2 linked regions of the Homo sapiens genome follow. The protein of the gene in region 1 purifies or fractionates together with the protein of each later gene. This does not show direct contact. Each region holds a gene or a part of one and is shown in the gene's direction. Other genes may lie near its edges.

Region 1 (4,473 bases):
CCTTCAAGTATTTGAAGACAGTTATTATGTCTCCCATAAGTGTTTCTTTCCAATCCAGCCTTGAATATACCCAGTTCTTCATGAGACTGGCCCATGAGCTCCAGAGCAGGAAGATATAACTTACTCAACTCTAAACACTCCAGTTCCTGGCATAGTGTTGAGAAATAGCTGGTACTCTGGGGATATTAACTAATCAGAACTAAGATGACCTTCACATGCCAATTCCAATTCCCAGAAGTCTTCTCCCTTTGGGAGGATGCTGAGAAATTGTTTGTAGGTGTAAAGTATCAGTATGAATGTTTTTCCCCAAAATTTAGTTCCCTTGTATGTTCCTCGATAATCAGGAAATTCAGAATAAGGTTTTTGCTCAATAGCAATGCATCCCTTAGCTTCAGCTTTCTCATATAATTACCCCCATTCCCACCCCATCTTTAACTTGGTCTGTGTCTTTTATATTTGTTTGCATTGATCTGTCTATTTCTTCCATCCTTTGACAAGGAGTGTTTTAAAACATACTCTATTTTTTAAAAATATCTAAGAAAACCATTGAATCTAATTCTTATTTTATTAAATATTCTCTACTAAGAAGGACCCAGATCTAGGAGACAATTAAAATGTTTGCCAGTTCAGCATCTCAGACTCACTTCTGTTCTCAGCTTGATGATTTCAACATCTCCCTTTCCCCTTTACAGGGAGAACACAGTAATATAGATTATTGGTTTCAAGCTCCTTGTATAGTAAAAATGTCTTTAGAAAGCAAATATCAATCACGTTTTTAAAATAGCACAACATAGGTAAGCAAGGCTTTGCACACCAAGCAAGAATTTTTTTTTTTTTCTAACTCTGCCTCTGGGCAAGGAGAGCAAAGCATTGAAACATCTGAATCAACTGGTATCTCCACTTTTGTCACATGGCTAAATGGGGGCCTTTATTTTTAAACACATGATTGACACCCATCTCTCAGGTTTGGGTCAAATACGGGCCATCTTGTGGGCAGACAGAGGAATCAGATGACTTATGAGGTCCCTGCCAGCACTATGATTTGTCAGACAGAAATGTAATTATGTCCTTAGGTTAAAAAATGGGGGAGGGAAGCCAACACTACCTTGAAGAGCCTTCAAAACTATAATCTGCAAAAGTCAGTAAATGAATCAAGAAACCCCCTCCCCTTTCTTTTGATGCATCTGAAGCTAAGATTTAATTGAAACTGCCTAAAGAAGGAAATAAAATTAAGACAACTGACAACAGAGCAGGGGAGACTGGATTTGGTGGTGATGTCAGGTCATTAGACCCAGAGGGTGTCTCCTTCTTAACTGTGCAATTAGGACCTCAATAAAAGGTTCCAGCTCCTGCTGTCAGCTCACAGCCCGCTGCCCCACGTTCTACCTGCTCTCGCTTGTGAACTAGGTAAGTCCATCTGCTTGAGCATACTTGGGATTTCAGTTGCTGTTTTGCTTATATGTGAGATTGCAAGAGGATTTCAAAGGAAACACACTTTAAGTCTATGTCAACCCCTATTAATAATAATAAACTGGGAGCGCCAACCACCCAAATGCATTCCTTGATTATGGAACTTCTTTGATCATTTTCTTTTTAAAAAAAACATAAATTGTTTAGAAGTCATAGGCATGAATATTATTCAACAAGGCACAGGATCAGATCTCTATTGCAATGAAAATGTAGAAGCATTTAAAGGATGGGAAATGAATGAATAAGGGGTCGGGACATGGAATCATGTCTTCTTGGTTAAAGCATGTTGTTACCACCTGCAAACATAGGGGTTAATTTTCTTGGTGTGACTTATCTTTCCACTAGAAGCTTTGCTAACTTTAAAGGTTATACCCTCCTAACCGCAGGAGGCTAGACTGAGCCAAAGGGAGAGGAGAGCAGATAGACACTCTTGGATGAGGCTGGAAGAATGGGTCCAACTCTATTGGCTTCATTTATGCATTTCAATCCTTATGCTTGAGTTCTCTTATCACCTTCCTTTTGCAATGAAGCTTTCTCTGAGCACATGAATGTTGCTGTTTACTGAAGAGTGGGGTGAATTGTCTCTTCTAATACTTACCTATGCTGGGTCTGATTTCACCACAATGTCTGGTACAATACTAAATCACCCCTGGAGTTCAGATATAATATTTTAAGATACAGAATAGAGCAGGGGTTGCAGTGGAGATGGGGGAGGAACAAAAAGGATAATCTTGGTATCTCCTCCCTGAAGGACCCATCCTGGAAAATGAGCTTTGTTTATTCTTTCTCACAGCCTCTCCTGAGTTTGTAAAGATGCCTCAGCTCCTGAGAAATGTCCTCTGTGTAATTGAGACATTCCACAAATATGCCAGTGAGGACAGTAACGGGGCAACACTGACTGGCAGAGAGCTGAAACAACTCATCCAGGGCGAGTTTGGGGACTTTTTTCAGGTGAGCTTCTCACAGAGCTGTGTAAATTCTTTCCAACTCACCCTTTCTTTATAATCCAAGCAAGATGAGCATATGTGATCCCCATCCATTTTACACCTAGCTAACAGTTCTCAGCACTCACTGTCTCTTGAACAACTATTTTCAGTCTCAGTTCCATACTCTGTGCAATTACTTAGAGAAAAAGAGGTTTTCGTCACTGGGATTATTGCTTCTGCAAAGCTGACTTCTGAAAGGAGTCATAAACCATTATGCATCAAAATGCAACTCACAAGTGTTGTAAATGCTCTTTCTCAGGCATAGCTCTCTGATGAAAAATGGCTTGCAGAACCAATAAGTTCTTGCTGTTCTGGGAAAGTTAACCAGTTACTGAGGAATGAGGTCAGAAAAATAGGATTCTTGGGAGACACTTAGGACACTGGACCACATATAAATAAGCTGATTTCTCACTGTGTTTTCATGCAGCCCTGTGTCCTTCATGCTGTGGAAAAAAATTCAAATCTTCTGAATATTGACAGTAATGGCATCATCAGTTTTGATGAATTTGTTCTTGCAATCTTCAACTTGTTGAACCTCTGTTATCTTGACATAAAATCATTACTAAGTTCTGAACTAAGACAGGTGACTAAACCAGAGAAGGAGAAGCTAGATGATGTGGATGTTCAGGCAACCACCGGAGATGGTCAGTGGACAGTGGGAACTTCACCAACTCAAGAAAAGAGGATGCTTCCTTCAGGAATGGCATCATCATCTCAGCTCATCCCTGAAGAAAGTGGAGCAGTTGGAAATAACAGAGTGGACCCATGGAGAGAAGCCAAGACTCACAACTTTCCAGGAGAAGCATCTGAACACAATGATCCTAAGAACAAACACCTGGAAGGAGATGAACAAAGTCAGGAAGTGGCTCAAGATATACAAACAACAGAAGACAATGAAGGCCAACTTAAGACAAATAAGCCAATGGCAGGATCAAAAAAGACCAGCAGTCCCACAGAGAGGAAGGGACAAGATAAGGAGATCTCCCAGGAAGGAGATGAACCAGCCAGAGAGCAAAGTGTTTCCAAGATAAGAGACCAGTTTGGAGAACAGGAAGGAAACTTGGCAACCCAAAGTTCACCACCAAAAGAAGCAACACAAAGACCATGTGAAGATCAGGAAGTTAGAACAGAAAAGGAAAAACACTCTAATATACAAGAACCACCCCTACAAAGAGAAGATGAGCCCAGTTCACAGCATGCTGACCTGCCAGAACAAGCTGCTGCCAGGTCACCATCTCAGACACAGAAATCAACTGATTCCAAGGATGTCTGTAGAATGTTTGACACTCAAGAACCAGGAAAGGATGCTGACCAGACACCAGCTAAAACAAAGAATTTGGGTGAACCTGAGGATTATGGCAGAACATCTGAGACCCAAGAAAAAGAATGTGAAACAAAGGACCTGCCAGTCCAATATGGTAGCAGAAATGGTTCAGAAACATCTGACATGAGAGATGAAAGGAAAGAGAGGAGAGGTCCTGAGGCCCATGGAACAGCAGGGCAGAAAGAACGTGACAGAAAAACTCGGCCACTAGTCCTGGAAACCCAAACACAGGATGGGAAGTATCAGGAACTCCAAGGATTATCAAAATCAAAAGATGCTGAAAAAGGTTCTGAGACACAATATCTAAGCTCAGAAGGAGGAGATCAGACTCACCCTGAACTTGAAGGAACAGCAGTCTCAGGAGAAGAGGCAGAACACACCAAAGAAGGCACAGCAGAAGCATTTGTGAACAGCAAAAACGCACCTGCAGCAGAAAGGACACTGGGGGCAAGAGAAAGAACACAAGATTTAGCACCACTTGAGAAGCAGTCTGTAGGAGAAAATACTAGGGTCACCAAGACTCATGACCAACCAGTTGAGGAGGAGGATGGTTACCAGGGGGAGGACCCTGAGTCACCATTCACACAGAGTGATGAGGGGTCTTCTGAAACTCCCAACAGCCTGGCTTCAGAGGAAGGCAATAGCAGCTCAGAGACAGGTGAACTGCCTGTGCAAGGGGACTCCCAGAGTCAA
Region 2 (2,778 bases), on another chromosome or scaffold:
CCAAGACAGAAAAGCGATTCACAGCTTCTCCACAGCTCTCAGAGAACAAGGTCTATGAGATCTTAACGTGCAAAATCTAGATGCCAGCCCAGCTAATGTTTACTGAGCCTAGGATACTGTATACCAAGCCCTGTGCAAGGAGAAGCTGCATGTTATTCCTTATGAGAAACTAACATTTTGTTTACAGAGCAGTAGTTCTCAGACCATACATTAAGATCACTTGGGGAGCGTTTTGAGCCAATCTATGCCCAAGTTCCACCTCAGACCAATTAAATCAGTATGTCTAGGGATGGGGCATGGGTAGTGGTATATTTGTAAAACTCCCCAGATAATTCCATGTACAGCCAAGGTTGAGAATCGTGGTTAGAAATACTTAGCATTGGCCGGGCGCGGTGGCTCACGCCTGTAATCCTAGCACTTTAAGAGGCCAAGGCAGGTGGATTGCTCAGGAGTTCGAAACCAGCCTGGGCAACACGATGAAACCCCGTCTCTACTAAAATACAAGAAATTAGCCGGGCACGGCGGCGTGCGCCTGTAGTCCCAGCTACTCAGGAGGCTGAGGCAGGAGAATCACTTGAACCGGCAGGAAGGAAGGAAGGAAGGAACAGAGGGAGGGAAAGAGAGAGACAGAAAGAAAAGAAAAAAGAAAATAGAAAAAAAGAGCATTGACTGTGGCGTGGACCCTAAGGGCTGGGTGACATATCGTTGTCCCCACCCCAACACGCACTAGTGTAGTGGGTCTGAGAGTCCCTTGGCTAGCAGTACCATCACCAGGGAACTTGTTACACATAACAAATTCTCGGGCTACACTTTATACTGCTGAACAGAAAGTCTGGGGTGGGGCCCAGCAATCTGTTTAACAGCCTTGCGGGGGATTCTGATGTTCTCTCATGCTTAAGAACCACAATCTGGGGGTTGAATGGTTGGTTCCCTTACAAGTGAAGGTCTGGCTGTCCAGACACAACATCCTTTTTTCACAAAACCAGCTTTTTAAAATTAAAAATAGATTGGCCAGATGCGGTGGTTCACGCCTGTAATCTCGTCACTTTGAGAGGCTGAGGCGGGAGGATTGTTTGAGCTCAAGACTTCCTGACCCGCCTGGGCAACATAGTGAGACCTCATCTCAAAAAAATTTTTTTTAATTAAAATTTGTTTTTGCTTTTTTAGAGACGGGGCCTCGCTCTGTGGCTCAGGCTGGCGTGCAGCGACACGATCCTATAATAGTTTACTATAATCTCGCTACTGAGTTCAAGCGATCCGCCCGCCTCGGCCTCCCAAAGCGCTGGGATTACAGGAGTGAGCCGCTGCGCTCTGCCAAACCCATCCTACAGGATAACCTTAGAACTGCGACAGCACTAAACGCCCACGCCCCACGTGCCCCAGCCTGGGTGGTCGCTCCGGGACGGCGCCTTGTGTGACGTCACAGCCCCGCCCAGCCTGCCTCACAGCGCCGCAGGCCTTCCCCGCGTGGCGCCTCTATATTTCCCCGAGAGGTGCGAGGCGGCTGGGCGCACTCGGAGCGCGATGGGCGACTGGAAGGTCTACATCAGTGCAGTGCTGCGGGACCAGCGCATCGACGACGTGGCCATCGTGGGCCATGCGGACAACAGCTGCGTGTGGGCTTCGCGGCCCGGGGGCCTGCTGGCGGCCATCTCGCCGCAGGAGGTGGGCGTGCTCACGGGGCCGGACAGGCACACCTTCCTGCAGGCGGGCCTGAGCGTGGGGGGCCGCCGCTGCTGCGTCATCCGCGACCACCTGCTGGCCGAGGGTGACGGCGTGCTGGACGCACGCACCAAGGGGCTGGACGCGCGCGCCGTGTGCGTGGGCCGTGCGCCGCGCGCGCTCCTGGTGCTAATGGGCCGACGCGGCGTACATGGGGGCATCCTCAACAAGACGGTGCACGAACTCATACGCGGGCTGCGCATGCAGGGCGCCTAGCCGGCCAGCCAGGCCGCCCACTGGTAGCGCGGGCCAAATAAACTGTGACCTGGGCGCGGCTGGCTCCTCCTCCACTTGCGCGGTGGGGGGAGTTGTAAATAAGGAAACTGGTCTTTGCAAGACGGTTACCTGGTGGAGCCGGGATTTTGAGTCTAGAGGCTGCCAGGCCCCTGTGCCCTACACCCTGCTCTCCCATGGACGCCTTGCAGAGGCTCCTGGCCTGACTGCTGCTCCTTGGCGCGTTCCCAGGGTCCTAGGGACTCCGCAGCTGAGGAAGAGTCCAAGGGTGGGGGCTTCTCAAAGTCTGTTTCAGCCTTAGCGTCCTTTCTCAGAGATATTCCCACACATTAGGCAGGACAAGTAAAGGGAGCCCCCTCCCCATCCCGCGAACACCTCTCCCCATCAGGGTGTCAGGCTGGAGGCCAATTTGCTCCTCCCCCCTCCACTCATACCTCAAGCACTAGCAAGTTGTGAGTGGGTGACAGGATGGGCTTGGTGGCTTGTAAAGCAGTTCTGGGGCTCACAGGCCTCTGCATCTCTGCCCACATTCCTCCAAGGGGAGCCTACTGAGAGGGCTCATGTCCAAGACCATCGCAATTGGGTTTGAGACCTTACATCCTGCCTTCCCCAGGCCTTCGAAAAGGCCCCGCAGGAGTCCCTGGACTAGAGGGAGGAACTCTGGCATCCCTACCCGGGAGTCTCACTCTGCAGGCCTCAGTTTCAGGGTGACCTATGGAGGAGGGGGAATTGAAAAGCTTGGGTAAGTTTGAGGCCTGGTTTATTGCCCAAAGATAGTGGACAAAAGTGGGAGGGAGGGTGTCTGGTCCCTGCCCTCCATGT

What was found.
Region 2: the proteins of TCHHL1 (region 1) and PFN3 purify together in Homo sapiens (affinity purification with mass spectrometry; one large-scale study listed by BioGRID and IntAct). This does not show direct contact.

The regions. Positions count from the first base shown.
Region 1 is NC_000001.11:152,085,954-152,090,426, reverse strand, and holds the start of TCHHL1 (trichohyalin-like protein 1), read left to right. Parts: upstream 1-1,362; 5' UTR 1,363-1,407; intron 1,408-2,263; 5' UTR 2,264-2,283; coding exon 2,284-2,421; intron 2,422-2,883; coding exon 2,884-4,473.
Region 2 is NC_000005.10:177,399,323-177,402,100, reverse strand, and holds PFN3 (profilin-3), read left to right. Parts: upstream 1-1,439; 5' UTR 1,440-1,524; coding exon 1,525-1,938; 3' UTR 1,939-1,992; downstream 1,993-2,778. UniProt on the Homo sapiens protein: Binds to actin and affects the structure of the cytoskeleton. Slightly reduces actin polymerization.